Regions from separate parts of the Homo sapiens genome. Here regions 2, 3 and 4 are each reported to be linked to region 1. The links are microRNA targets in miRTarBase. Many come from high-throughput screens and were not tested one by one. Region 1 holds a microRNA gene; each other region holds the end of a gene's coding sequence.
What was found. Region 1 holds the annotated microRNA hsa-miR-3922-3p (UCUGGCCUUGACUUGACUCUUU, at 1,429-1,450, opposite strand). A microRNA usually pairs through its seed, bases 2 to 8, with sites in the 3' UTR of a target mRNA and lowers its output. Matches are read on the target gene's strand: a 7mer-m8 pairs with bases 2 to 8, a 7mer-A1 pairs with bases 2 to 7 and ends in A, and an 8mer does both.

Region 2: miRTarBase lists HAUS5 as a target of hsa-miR-3922-3p. Seed matches in the 3' UTR shown: 7mer-A1 at 1,728-1,734.
Region 3: miRTarBase lists ZNF865 as a target of hsa-miR-3922-3p. The part of its 3' UTR that is shown has no 7-base or 8-base seed match.
Region 4: the mRNA of LSM3 is a reported target of hsa-miR-3922-3p. Seed matches in the 3' UTR shown: 7mer-A1 at 2,353-2,359.

Annotation. Positions count from the first base shown.
Region 1 is chr12:104,590,041-104,593,143 of GRCh38, reverse strand. It overlaps MIR3922 (microRNA 3922), which reads right to left and starts at 1,511; the gene lies at 1,428-1,511. All of the region lies in intron 1 of CHST11 (carbohydrate sulfotransferase 11), which reads right to left.
Region 2 is chr19:35,622,583-35,625,685 of GRCh38, forward strand. HAUS5 (HAUS augmin like complex subunit 5) reads left to right here. Exons shown (of 19, transcript NM_015302.2): 18 at 19-151; 19 at 294-2,773. The coding sequence ends at 411. Among named protein-coding and RNA genes, the nearest start is that of RBM42, 4.9 kb to the right of the region's middle.
Region 3 is chr19:55,616,220-55,619,322 of GRCh38, reverse strand. It overlaps ZNF865 (zinc finger protein 865), which reads right to left. Exons shown (of 2, transcript NM_001195605.2): 2 at 2,054-3,103. The coding sequence ends at 2,525. Among named protein-coding and RNA genes, the nearest start is that of ZNF784, 6.8 kb to the left of the region's middle.
Region 4 is chr3:14,197,833-14,200,935 of GRCh38, reverse strand. LSM3 (LSM3 homolog, U6 small nuclear RNA and mRNA degradation associated) reads right to left here. Exons shown (of 4, transcript NM_014463.3): 4 at 1-2,900. The coding sequence ends at 2,820. Among named protein-coding and RNA genes, the nearest start is that of LSM3, 21 kb to the right of the region's middle.

The DNA.
Region 1 (3,103 bases):
AAAGTGAATTAAACTTGGCATATGAAGGTCAAGGGAGTAAATCTAAGAATTACGTGAATGTGCTTGGTATAGCTTGGGAAAAGATGCAGCTTCATCCAAGAGCCGTGAGATTTACTGACATGGAAGCCTTCCAGTGGGGACTCTAATACTCAGCTTTGAAGAATATAGTGTATACATTAAAATATTTACCGGCCAGGAGAAGAACTGGGTCACCAAATGGAGTCCCCCAAACCAATGGCCCCAGCAGCCAACCCATTCCCTCTTTTAGAGAATTCTGGCCCATCTGCAGAAACATGCCCAGACAGCATGCCTACTTCCGAAAGTATAAGATCCCTGTCCAAGTACAAATCAGTTGTCAACCTGACAGGTTAGTGCACCATCAGGCACATCTAAGACAAAAAGGGCCCTTTAGAGACCACCTAGTCCAATGACTTTCACAGAAGGAAAGAGAATGAATCTACGTGGTTAGGGAAAGTATCCTCAAAACTGATTCTGACTGAGCAAGAGAAATGGCAGGACGCAAAGTGCTATAATCTGGATGTTTGTGTCCCCACTAAAATTCATGTTAAAATATTAACCCCCAAGATAATCATTTTAGAGGGTGGGGACTTTGGAAGGTGATTTGGTCATGGGGGTAGAGCCCTCTTAAATGGAATTAGTGCCCTTATAAAAGACGTCCCAAAAAAGACCACTTACCCCCTCCACCATGTGAGGACATAGCAAGAAGGGACTGTCTATGAACCAGAAAGCAGGGCCTCACCAGACACCAAATCTGCCAATGCTTTGGTCTTGGACTTCCCAGCCTCCAGAACTGTGAGGAATAAATTTCTGTTGTGTATAAGCCACCCAGTTTATGGTATTTTGTTGTAGCACCCTGAACAGATTAAGACACAAACCTCAAACATAATCCTCCTGGCCAGTGGGGTATGCTGCCCACCCACTGAGAGCATGAGAGACGGGAAGGGAGAAGAGAGAAAGGGAGAGTAAGGGAGAGAAGGGGAAGGGAGGAGAGGAGATGGGAGGGGAGAGGAGGGGAGAAGAGGGGAGGGGAGGGGAGGAGGTGCCAGGTATTAAAAGATTAAACCACCTCATCCCTAACCCCATTTTGCAGGTAAAGAAATGGACGTGCAGGATAGAAGGTGATCTGTCCAAGGACACACTGCTGGCTATAGGCCGAGTTGCAGCTAAAATGAAGATCTCCTGATTCCTGGCCTCATCCCTTTCTCTTTTTGCATGTGATTTACATACAAATATATATAGAAAACCGAGACAAGTTTTATTTTAAAAGTACTATCCTTACTATGTGTGACAAACTAACATTTTCTATTGTTCTTTTATGAACTACTAGTCACAACTCATTAAATCCATTTTACAACACACCCGTGGGTCATGGTGCATGCTTTGAAAACGTCTGACTCAGATATCTGGAAAGAGTCAAGTCAAGGCCAGAAGTCCCACAGGTGTGCTTTCCAGCCCTGCTGTGGGACCTCTGGCCTTGACTTGACTCTTCCTTTAAGTTCAATTTGAGGGTGCTTATGAATGGAATATGTTAAACATTGATAAAGAGAACTCATGGCTTCCACAGCTAAAATTTCCCTCCCACAATGTTCACCATCACAGTGGATGCCACCATCATGCCCCTAGCTGTGACCAAACAGTGAGGAATTTTCTTAAATTCCCTTTTCTGTCTGCTATGCCCCACCCATCAGCATGTCTCTGTCCTCACCGCCCTGGTACAAGCCATCATCGCCTTCCCCTTGGGCTATGACAAAAACCTCTTAACTGGTATCCCTGCTGCCACCCTGGCCTCCCTACTCTATTCTCTACCAGCGGCCAGAATAATCTTCTAGAAACGTAAATCAGATCATAACAGCCTTCCTGCTCCAAAGACCTGCCACCATCTTAGAACAAAATCCAAAGTCTTTCCACGGCCCAGAGGCCCCCCATGATATAGCCCCGCCTGCCTCTGCCCCTCCTCCACCATACTGGTCATCTTGCTCTTTCTCCAAAAAACCAAGCATGAGCCTCAGGGCCTTTGCACTCACTGCTCTGTCAGCCTGGAGTCCCTCTCCCAACACCAACAACTGTTCTCTTCTTTACTCTGCCCTCTGACCGCATCATCAGGTCCCCAGAGAGAGCTTCCCTGGACACACTGTCTCCCATGGCCTCACTTCCTCTCTCTCCTGTTCCTCCCATTCTTTGCTATATTCTTTTTTTTTTTTAAGACAGGGTCTCGTTCTCTCACCCAGGCTGGAGTAAAGTGGTGCGATATTGGCTCACTGCAACCCCCACCTCCCATGTTCGAGCAATTCTTGTGCCTCAGCCTCCCAAGTAGCTGGGATTACAGGCGTGTGCCACCATGTCCAGCTAATTTTTGGCATTTTTAAGTACACAGGGTTTCACCATGTTGGCCAGGCTGGTCTTGAACTCCTGGCTTCAAGTGATCTGCCCGCCTCAGTCTCCCAAAGTGCTGGGATTACAGGCATGAGCCACTGCGCCCCGCCTGCCATATGCTTCTTCAAGGCATTGATTCTCTCCTGTCTTTTTATCTTAAATGCTTTATTGGCTGTTGTCTGTTGCCACCACGAGACCCTAAGTTTCATGAGCAAAAGGACTTGGACTGTCTTGTCTATCACAATATCCTCGGTTCCTAAAAGGGGCCTAAATTCAGGGCTGAATGAATAAATGAATGAATGGAAGTGCCTTTCCCAAAAGACAGGAAACTAAACCGTTTTGAAATACAGTCACCCCAGTCCAAGGTCTTCTAAACTTTCCTGATAAGAGTCATCCGAGGTACTTATTTAAAAAACATATATTCCCAGCCCTTCTGAATCAGATTCTCCTACAAAGGGGCCTGGGAAGCTTCAAGCTTGATGAGCACCCCAGGGGATTTGTATCTTGGAAGAGTCTGGGGATGCTGGATCAGCTAGACATGAGGAACAGGTGCGCACATAGACAGCGCACGTGCAGGCCATCTGGAGAAGAGGAGGGGGAGAAACTGTGCCAGATGGGGCCAACGAGGCCAGGGGCCTGGGTGTAGGTACTTACAAGGGTCATGCGGCACCTAATAGCCAAGGGACGGGCCAGCTAGGGTGAGGCATCT
Region 2 (3,103 bases), not on the chromosome of region 1:
TGGCTTTCTCACCCTCAGAGCTGCTGCAGATCCAGGCATCCCAGGAAAAACAGCAGAAAGAGAACCTGGGGCAGGCTCTGAAGAGGCTGGAGAAGCTACTGAAACAGGCACTGGAGCGAATCCCTGAGCTGCAGGGGATCGTGGGGGACTGGTGAGAGGGGAACGTGCCGCGGATGGGAAACAGAAAAGTCAGGACTCAAGCTGGGGGCCTGATGAGAAGGAGCAGGCCATGGTTTTGCAGGGAGGGTCTGGAGGGTCAGTCCTTTCCTCGTTGACGCCATGCCATTCCCCAGGTGGGAGCAGCCAGGCCAGGCCGCCCTCTCTGAGGAGCTCTGCCAGGGCCTGTCCCTGCCCCAGTGGCGGCTGCGCTGGGTTCAGGCCCAGGGGGCCCTGCAGAAGCTGTGCAGCTGAAGAGAGGGTTCAAACGGAAGCCGAGAACTTGACACTGTTCACCCCAACACCTCACCTCCCCCAGGACATTTGGAAGAAAGCAGCGCCAGGATTCCTCGGCAGTCGTCCCCACCCGCACCTGCAGTCCCCTCATGTGCTGTTCTGCTGCCCCACTCAGCTCCTGGACCCTGTCCTTTCATCCCGCTAAAGCACCCCCTAAAACCCCTTCATCACTTTCATTCTCAGCAAAAAGTAATTGAGCACCTCCTCTAGGCGCTGGGGAGTCCACACTGAACAAAAGAAACAGAAAACCCTGTCTTCCAGCAGTTGAGTTCTAGGGCAGGGAGACAGAGTTTACAAGATAAGGAAAATATATATGTAGTATGCTGCAAGTTAACTGCTGTGTGGGAAATCCAGCAGGGGGTGGGATGTGTGATTTGAATTGAGGGCCACACTGCCCAGGTCGTGCTCCGTCAAGGGGTGAGCAGGAGCAACAGGGGTGGCTGAGTAAGGGCTTGCAGCTGGAGGCAACAGCACATGCAAAGGCCCTGAGCCAGGATGTGCTGCAATAAGGGCCACTGAGGGGGACAGTGTAGGTTGGGGGTGAGGAATGTATTAAAAGATGAGATTGCCTTCTAGTTTGTATAGTTTCTTTTTTTACATGTAAATCAGCCATTTGGAATTTATCCTAGCACATGGATCCAATTTTGTCTTATTTTACATATATCCTAGTAGCACTTACTGAAATTCCCAGTCAGAGTGGCAGTTGCCTCTGAGGGAAGGTGGGTGGCAGGGATCAACTGAGGAGGAGACACAGAAATGTCCTAGCTGATGGGAATGTGCTGTGTCAAGAGCAGCGGCGGTGACGCAGGTGTAGAGATTTGTCAGAGCTCATGTAGTTGTAGTCTTAAGGCCTGTGCATTTCACTGCGTGGGTTACTCAATTTATAAAGCAAAGCCCTTACACTTTTGAGATGCCACCTTTTTATGCACTAAATTTCCATGTTTAATTGGGTTATATCTGGCTTCTCTCCAGACCTGCTTTGTATTTAACTCTCCATGTGTCATTCCTACAGTAGCTTAATAGAAAGGCTTGTGACACATTGTCATATCTGTTCTTGTTTTCTTTTGTTTTTTTTTTTTTTTTTTTTGAGATGCAGTCTCATTCTGTTGCCCAAGTTGGAGTGCAGTGGCATGATCTCAGCTCACTGCAACCTCCGCCTCCCAGGTTCAAGCCATTCTCATGCCTCAGCTTCCCCAGTAGCTAGGATTACAGGTACGCACCACCACGCCCAGCTCATTTTTGTACTTTTAGTAGGGACGGGGTTTCATCATGTTGGCCAGACTGGTCTCGAACTCCTGACCTCAAGTGATCTGCCTGCCTCGGCCTCCCAAAGTGCTGGGATTACAGGCATGAGCCACCGCGCCTGACCACATTGCCATATCTGAAATGGCTGGATTCTCTTAGGTGCTTTTCTTTTTCTTTCTTTCTTTCTTTTTTTGAGACAGAATCTGGCTGTTTCCCAGGCTGAAGTGCAGTGGCATGAACTCAGCTCACTGCAACCTCTGCCTCCTGGATTCAAACAATTCTCATGTCTCAGCCTCCTGAATAGCTGGGATTACAGGCACCCACCACCATATCTGGCTAATATTTGTATTTTTTGTAGAGTCGGAGCTTTACCATGTTGGTCAGGCTGCTCTCCAACTCCTGGCCTCAAGTGATTCTATCGCCTCTGCCTCCCAAATCTTCACCTGCTGGGATTAGTTTCCCCTGTCTCAGTAAATTTTTTTTCCCAAACTAAGTGAACATTAGATTTAATTTGGCTGGCCCCAGAAGAAAAACATGCACAGATGGTAGTTTTACTGGTGTTGCAGTAAGTTTTCAAATTTGGAAGTTTGGCAGCTTTATGATCTTGAACCTTGCTGTCCATCTCTCACACAACTCCTCTCTTGGCCTCCAGAGTCCCTTTACTCTCCCAGCTTTCCTCCTGCCCCTGGCTGCTGTTTCCCAGCCTTTCCACATTGGCTTTCCCATGTAGTCCTTAGTGTGTCTGCTCCTCCTCTCTCTCCTCATCACAGTTCCCAGCCCCCACCTTCAACTGAACTCAACAAAATCTTCAACTTCATACAGTAGTCACATTGTTAGTAATAACACTGGCATTTTTATTTTGATAAAATAGACCGTTTAAATTTTTGAGATTCTACCTTATATTTTTTGAATTATATACTAAAGCAAATAAGTAGTGATGTAATGTCATTGGGGACCAAGATTTTTAGTGTAAATGAAAAAAGATAACAAATATAAACTCAAGTAAACACCCTGTAGTCTTTCACATGAATTGGAAATATCAGAATAAAGTCATGATTTTTCTCTTTCTAAAAAATATGTATTTCCCTAGTTAAGTCCCCTGAAAAGGTCTAAATATAATGACACCCCAGTAACACTGAGCAGCACTAGTATACAGACTGTGGTCTCTATAAGTGCCATTTCTGACTAAGAACTAGGGACTTTTGTGAAAACAGCTGATTCCAGGTCTGGGGCAAGAAATGTGCAAAATGTGTCCAGGATATTTTGTGCCAGGAAGCAAAGAGTCCTCCAAGACTACTGTGGCCAAGTCAAAGGAACTCAGGAGCCAGTCTGAAGGGCTGTCACTCACCAAAGGTGGGACATGTTGAGCAGCAAAAAGAACCACAGTGGTTTGAAGCACATCAAA
Region 3 (3,103 bases), not on the chromosome of region 1:
CATACTAATCTGTCTTAAATGCTCCAGAATAGCAGGGTTTAGTTCAACACACTAAACTCTCCGCCTGGAAATCTTTGCCACTTCTTTTTTTTTTTTTTTTTCTTATTTATTTATTTTTTTGAGACAGAGCCTTGCTCTGTCGCCCAGGATGGAGTGCAGTGGCATGATCTCGGCTCACTGCAAGCTCCGCCTTCTGGGTTCATGCCATTCTCCTGCCTCAGCCTCCCGTGTAGCTGGGACTACAGGCGCCTGCCACCTGCTCCCACCACCACACCCGGCTGATTTTTTGTATTTTTAGTAGAGACAGGGTTTCACCGTGTTAGCCAGGATGGTCTGGAGCTCCTGACCTCGTGATCCACCTGCCTCGGCCTCCCAAAGTGCTAGGATTACAGGCATGAGCCACCGTGCCCGGCCTCTTTGCCACTTCTTTACCTGGAAAACTCCAGTTGGTTTATGTCATCGTTCAGGGATCACCTTCTCCCCAAGAAGCTTTTCTAGCCCCCCTTCCACTCTGACAGGTGACTCCTCTGTGCTCCCTCAAGCCCTAGTGATACTTCCAAGTCCCTTACACTGTGAGGCTCCATTTCCATGTTACTGCTGAACCCTGAACCCTGGGGGCACTGGCACAACGTCTGTCTCATGCTGGGTCTTCAGCATTAGAACATGGAGCCACACAGGGTAGCTGCTCTCCCATGGGTCACACAGGACTCACCCAAGCAGCGCTCTTACCTAGTTTCATCTTCAAGTTTCTTTTTTTCCTTTTTTTTTTTTTTTTTTTTTTTTGAGATGGAATCTCGCTCTTGTCGCCTAGGCCGGAGTGCAGTGGCGCAATCTCAGCTCACTGCAACCTCCACCTCCTGGGTTCAAGTGATTCTCCTGCCTCAGCCTCCCGAGTAGCTGGGATTACAGGCACCTGCCATCACGCCCAGCTAATTTTTGTACTTTTAGTAGAAAGGATGGTTCACCATGTTGGCCAGACTGGTCTCGAACTCCTGACCTCAGGTGATCTGCTCGCCTTGGGCTCCCAAAGTACTGGGATTACAGGCATGAGCCACTGCACCTGGCCTCATCTTCAAGTTTCTGTACTGAAGTACTCTGGGACTGAAGTCCAAATTATTTATTTGTTGAGATGGAGTCTCACTCTGTCACCCAGGCTGGATGCAGTGGTGCGATCTCAGCTCACTGCAATCTCTGCCTCCTGAGTTCAAGTGATTCTCCTGCCTCAGCCTCCTGAGTAGCTGGGATTACAGATGCCCACCACCATGTCCAGCTAAGTTTTGTATTCTTAGTAGAGATGGGGTTTCACCACTTTGGCCAGGCTGGTCTCAAACGCCTGACCTCAAGTGATCTGCCCGCCTCGGCCTCCCAAAGTGCTGGGATTACAGGCGTGAACCACCATGCCTGGCCTGGAGTCCAAATTCTGTGGATTTTTGAGATGTCCCTGGAGCACCTTTGTTCTTCAGGACCCCAGGCCCTTCTTCTAACAAATGAGATAACTAAACACACATTGCCAGGCATACATCTTGCTGTTCCCAGAGCCAACATGAGAGCTGTGAACGGGCTTTTGAATCTCCCAATCATTACCCTGGAGGACAAGTGCTAAGAGGGAGCTGTATCATGACCATCAGTCTGCACATGGTTGTGAGGCAGCCACGGCAGCCGGATGGGAGTTCTCTTTTGTGTTACTTGAGGCCAAGGGGCACGTCCAATTCATCTGTTTCCCCAGTGCCCAGCTCAGGGCCTGGCAGGCAGGAGGTCTCCGGAAGTGGTGGTGGAGTGAACAAAGGCTGAAAGCATCCGGAAGGGGAAGAGTCGGGGCATGTTAAGTCAGTTCCTGAGAGCAGACACTTACCTGTCTTGTCCATCTCCATTTGCCCAGCTCAGACTAACGCTGGGAATACAGCAAATCCTCAGTAAGTCCCTGTTGAATGAGAGTGAGTGAGAGACAGAGGCGCCCGGCATCAAAACTGCAGAGGAAACAAGTTTTAACTTTGTGCTTTGCCACCATGTGATCCCCACTCTCCCTGGGTGGGATGCAAGGATGGACTCCAGCGGCCCTCATGGTAAGATTTATTATTCTCCGCTCTGTACAAGCCGCGTCTGCCACCCCGCCCCCCACCCCCCCACCCCAAAAAGCACCCAGCACTCCCTTGTGCCCTCCCAACTCTGCTCATACTCCACTGTCCAGCCAGATTCCAAAGGAGGGGGAGGGGCGGTTCAGACCCATCTCCGCCAAAACTTACTGGGGGCAGAGTGCTGCTGGGGCGGGGGCTGATGCGGGTCACAAACGAGGGTTGGACGGAGGATAGGGTTCAGTGTCTGATGGGATGAGGGGAGGGCAGAGAGGTCGAGGATGGGAGTGATTCAGTCTTGAGCCTGTCGGGCGTGCGCCCTGAAGGTCGCCAGTCCGTGTGAAGTTCTGAAGGATGGGGCAACAGCGAGGAGGGGGGAAGAGTCTGATCAGTCCTGGGAGGTGGGAGTCCAGAAGGGGGCTTTTGATGGGAGTGGGATGGGAACCCCTCGGTCAGGCATCCTTCCCGGCCAAGGTGCCCGCCCCTGCTCCAGGCCCCCCGAGGTTCTCGGCCTTGTGCGCCAGGCGGTGTTTCTTGAGGCCGTAGGTGTTGGCGAAGCCCTCGCCGCAGGAGGAGCAGCGGAAGGGCCGGCCGCCCTGGTGGGCAGCCAGGTGCTTACGGAAGTAGCCGGGATCCTTGAAGGCCTTGAGGCAGGCGGGGCAGCGGAGCTCGGGCCGCGGCGGCTCATGGGCGCGCTGGTGGCGCAGCACGGAGCTCAGGTAGAAGAAGCCCTTGCCGCAGTGCTCACAGCGGTAGGCGCGCTCGCCCAGGTGCAGCCGCTGGTGCTCCAGCAGGTTGGAGCGGTAGCGGAAGGTCTTGCCACAGGCGCTGCAGCGCTGGGGCCGGGCCACAGCGTGCAGCCGCCGGTGCTCTGCCAGGCTGGACGACTGCGCGAAGCGCTTGGCGCACACGCCGCACTTGAAGGCCCGCTCGCCAGTGTGCACCACGCGGTGCTGCCGCAGGTACCAGGAGCGCAGGAAGCCTCGGCCGCACACGCCACATCGGTACGGCCGCTGTTCCGTGTGGCAGCG
Region 4 (3,103 bases), not on the chromosome of region 1:
GATCTCGAACTCCTGGGCTCAAGTAATCCTCCCGCCTCAGTCTCCTTAGTGGTTGAGTTTACAGGTGTGTGTCACCGCACCCACTTTAGCTGATTAAATAAAAGGGTGTGTGAAACCACTTTCTGCCTCTTAGTGTGAAGAGGGATAGTACTCTAGTTTGGGCAAATCTTCAAAAATCACTATTTGAAATTTGAAAATCGTCCATTTGCAGCTAATGATTAAGTTTAACTTGGGATACTCAAGTTACTTTTCATTTTGGGCACATTTCATCTCAAAGATGTGGTCCCATATTTTGTCCATTTTTCTTTGTGGGAGGCAATGGCAATTCATATCGGCCTCTCATAAAACAACCAAGACCGGGATCCAGGCATGATACTTGCTGAAGAGGCTTCCCTTAGGCTAATCTGACACCTCATTGCAGAAACCACCAGTCACCAGCTCCACTGACCACCTGCCATCCAGCTGGCTGGAGCCGAGTGCTCTGCAGACTCAGAAGTCCAAGGCGTGGCTCCCAGGGGCCCTCACACCATAACCCCTCAGTGGACAGCACCACTGCAGAGGAAACCTCAGTGTGGACCATGGCAGGGCCCTGCTTGAGCTGTCTCTGTTGTGGATTGAGTCCCAGCTCCAAAAGGACTCACACATTGCCTCCCCTCCCTCCATTTCCTGACACATAGGTGGCTATTCTGCAGTTAACCTTTTATTGTCCCTCCCCTTGTATCTTAGCAGCTAGGAAATGAAGTAGGTTGGTATGTTTTAGTTGTGTGTGCATATGAGAGTAACAGTGTCAGATATTAAGGTTCATGGGTTTTAGAAATGTGTATAATCAAGTCCTCACAGCCAAAAGTTTTAGTGTAAACTATCAGTTCCAGGAGAAAAAGGAGAAAGATAACTAAGAATGAAGAGAAGAAAGTGTCCAGGAATTCAGTGTGACTATCAGAAACCACTAAAAATGAATGCAGTGCTGGGGAGAACTGCAGACTGGCAGAGCGAGGCCAGATGGCCTGTCACCCCACGCCTTAGTGAACACCAGGAGCCAACAGACTGCCCAGAGCCAGGGCCTTGGTACCACACCCACACCACAGGCTCACACAGGTAGGAGGCAGGCAGGTTCAATCTTGCTGCCACATACTAATGACCACAGGCGGCCTGAGGTCTTTGAGGTTGTTTCTTCTAACATTCTGCAGGAGGGAGTTCATTTTTCAATACTGAATGGGCTGCTGTAAACAGGTTATCTCCTGGGACCACTACAGCTTAAGGACAAAGCGTGGGGATGGCACAAGTGAAGGGAGGGTGTCTCTCCTGCCTCCTCACCTAAGATGAAGCCTCCATCAGCTCACCCACACTTGTTTTTCTCTTCTCCATGAACTTGCAGGGGCATGTACCATTAGTAAGGAAAATAAAACCTTTTAAATATGTTTACTGAAAGCATCTTTCTTGCACAAGGCTTAAAGTACTGTGCATTTGTGAGCATATCGTGCTTGATAATGAACACGCACACACATTCAGCTCATTTACAGACAAACCATCCACAAGTTGGATTTTCTACATTTCAAAATGGAATGACCATAGCGGAGGATGTCAGGTTCTAAGCCCTGTCTTGATAAAGTTTGAGAGATTGTAACACGCTTTTACTTTCCTCTTTAGGTTTTAAGCATTATGTGCTGACTGAAGCTAGAAATAAAAACAGCTTTGCTTTCAGCCAATTTCTGCTTTACTGTGTCACTGAGACATGTTGTTTGAGACCCCTCATCATTAATGGCCAATGATCCAAGAGTGGAAAAATGGTCTGAGTCATAATTATAAACAGGTTATGATCAAGCTGAACGTCTGACCTTAGAATTAAATCAGGCCAGAGAAAAGAGAAATCATGCTTTGCTCTGTCTTCTACTGCAGGGTTGATGTTTACAATGTCCCTCTGCCCCTTTCTCCCATATTTGGGTGCTCTTCCCCATGCTCCTATGGCATCCTGCATGTGCATGATTCTATCAGCACTAATCTTACTGCCTGCAATTGTTGGTTTAAACATCTGCCTCCCCAGAAGACTTGAGGGCAGAAAACTTTTTTTTTTTTTTTTTTGACACGGAGTCTCGCTCTGTTGACCAGGTTGAAGTGCAATGGTGTGATCTTGGCTCACTGCAACCTCTGCCTCCTGGGTTCAAGCGTCTACTGCCTCAGCCTCCTGAGTAGCTGGGATTACAAGTATGCGCCACCACGCCTGGCTAATTTTTATATTTTCAGTAGAGAAAGGGTTTCACCATGTTGGCCAGGCTGGTCTCAAACGCCTGACCTCAGGTGATCCACCCACCTTGGCCTCCCAAAGTGCTGGGATTACAGGCATGAGCCACCATGTCTGGCCCAGAAAGCATTTTGATAAAACTCTGGTTCCCAGCACTCAAACCTGGTGCCTCAAACACAGTAGGTGCACTGCAAATGTGTGCTAAGTGAAGGTAAGACATGCTTACTTTAAATAATTCACAAGACAGAAGACCGCACTTAAAAAAATCTACAAGGAAACACCAATTTAAAGAAAAGAAAAATCAGTAAGTATCTGTGAGAATAATGGAGCAAAAGAAGTCCTGAAAGAGTTCTGCATCTTGGTGGTCATATTTATTGGAGAGCTTGAGAAAAATGAAAATACCATTTAGCTTAAGAAGTTGTGAGTTATCTGCAAATCAACTCATTTCAGGAGTGGAAGAATCCCCGGAATTATTTCTTAATATCAAAATGTATGCAGGTTTCTCTTATGAATGTTTTGTACTTTTAGAGAGGCCACTGTACAAAGTCTCCCGTTTTCCATACAGGACAAATTCTTTGTTTCAGCCAACTCTCAGTGGAGGGGCAACCAGGACAACGCCATCTCCCCGGACAAAGAGCATTGGAATATTCCGTTTCGTTGACTAGAAGAGAAAAAAAAACAGAACATATTTGTACAACTGTGTATTACTGCTTATTGTTTGTGACAGAAATGTTAAAAAATGGATTCATCATGACACAAAAAAATTGGATTAAAAAACCTGATCACTTCCCTTGGTAGCACCAAGAACCAATCCATCAACTGCTTCCTTTCGACAATTGTGGCAGAGACTGGAGCTACCCATTA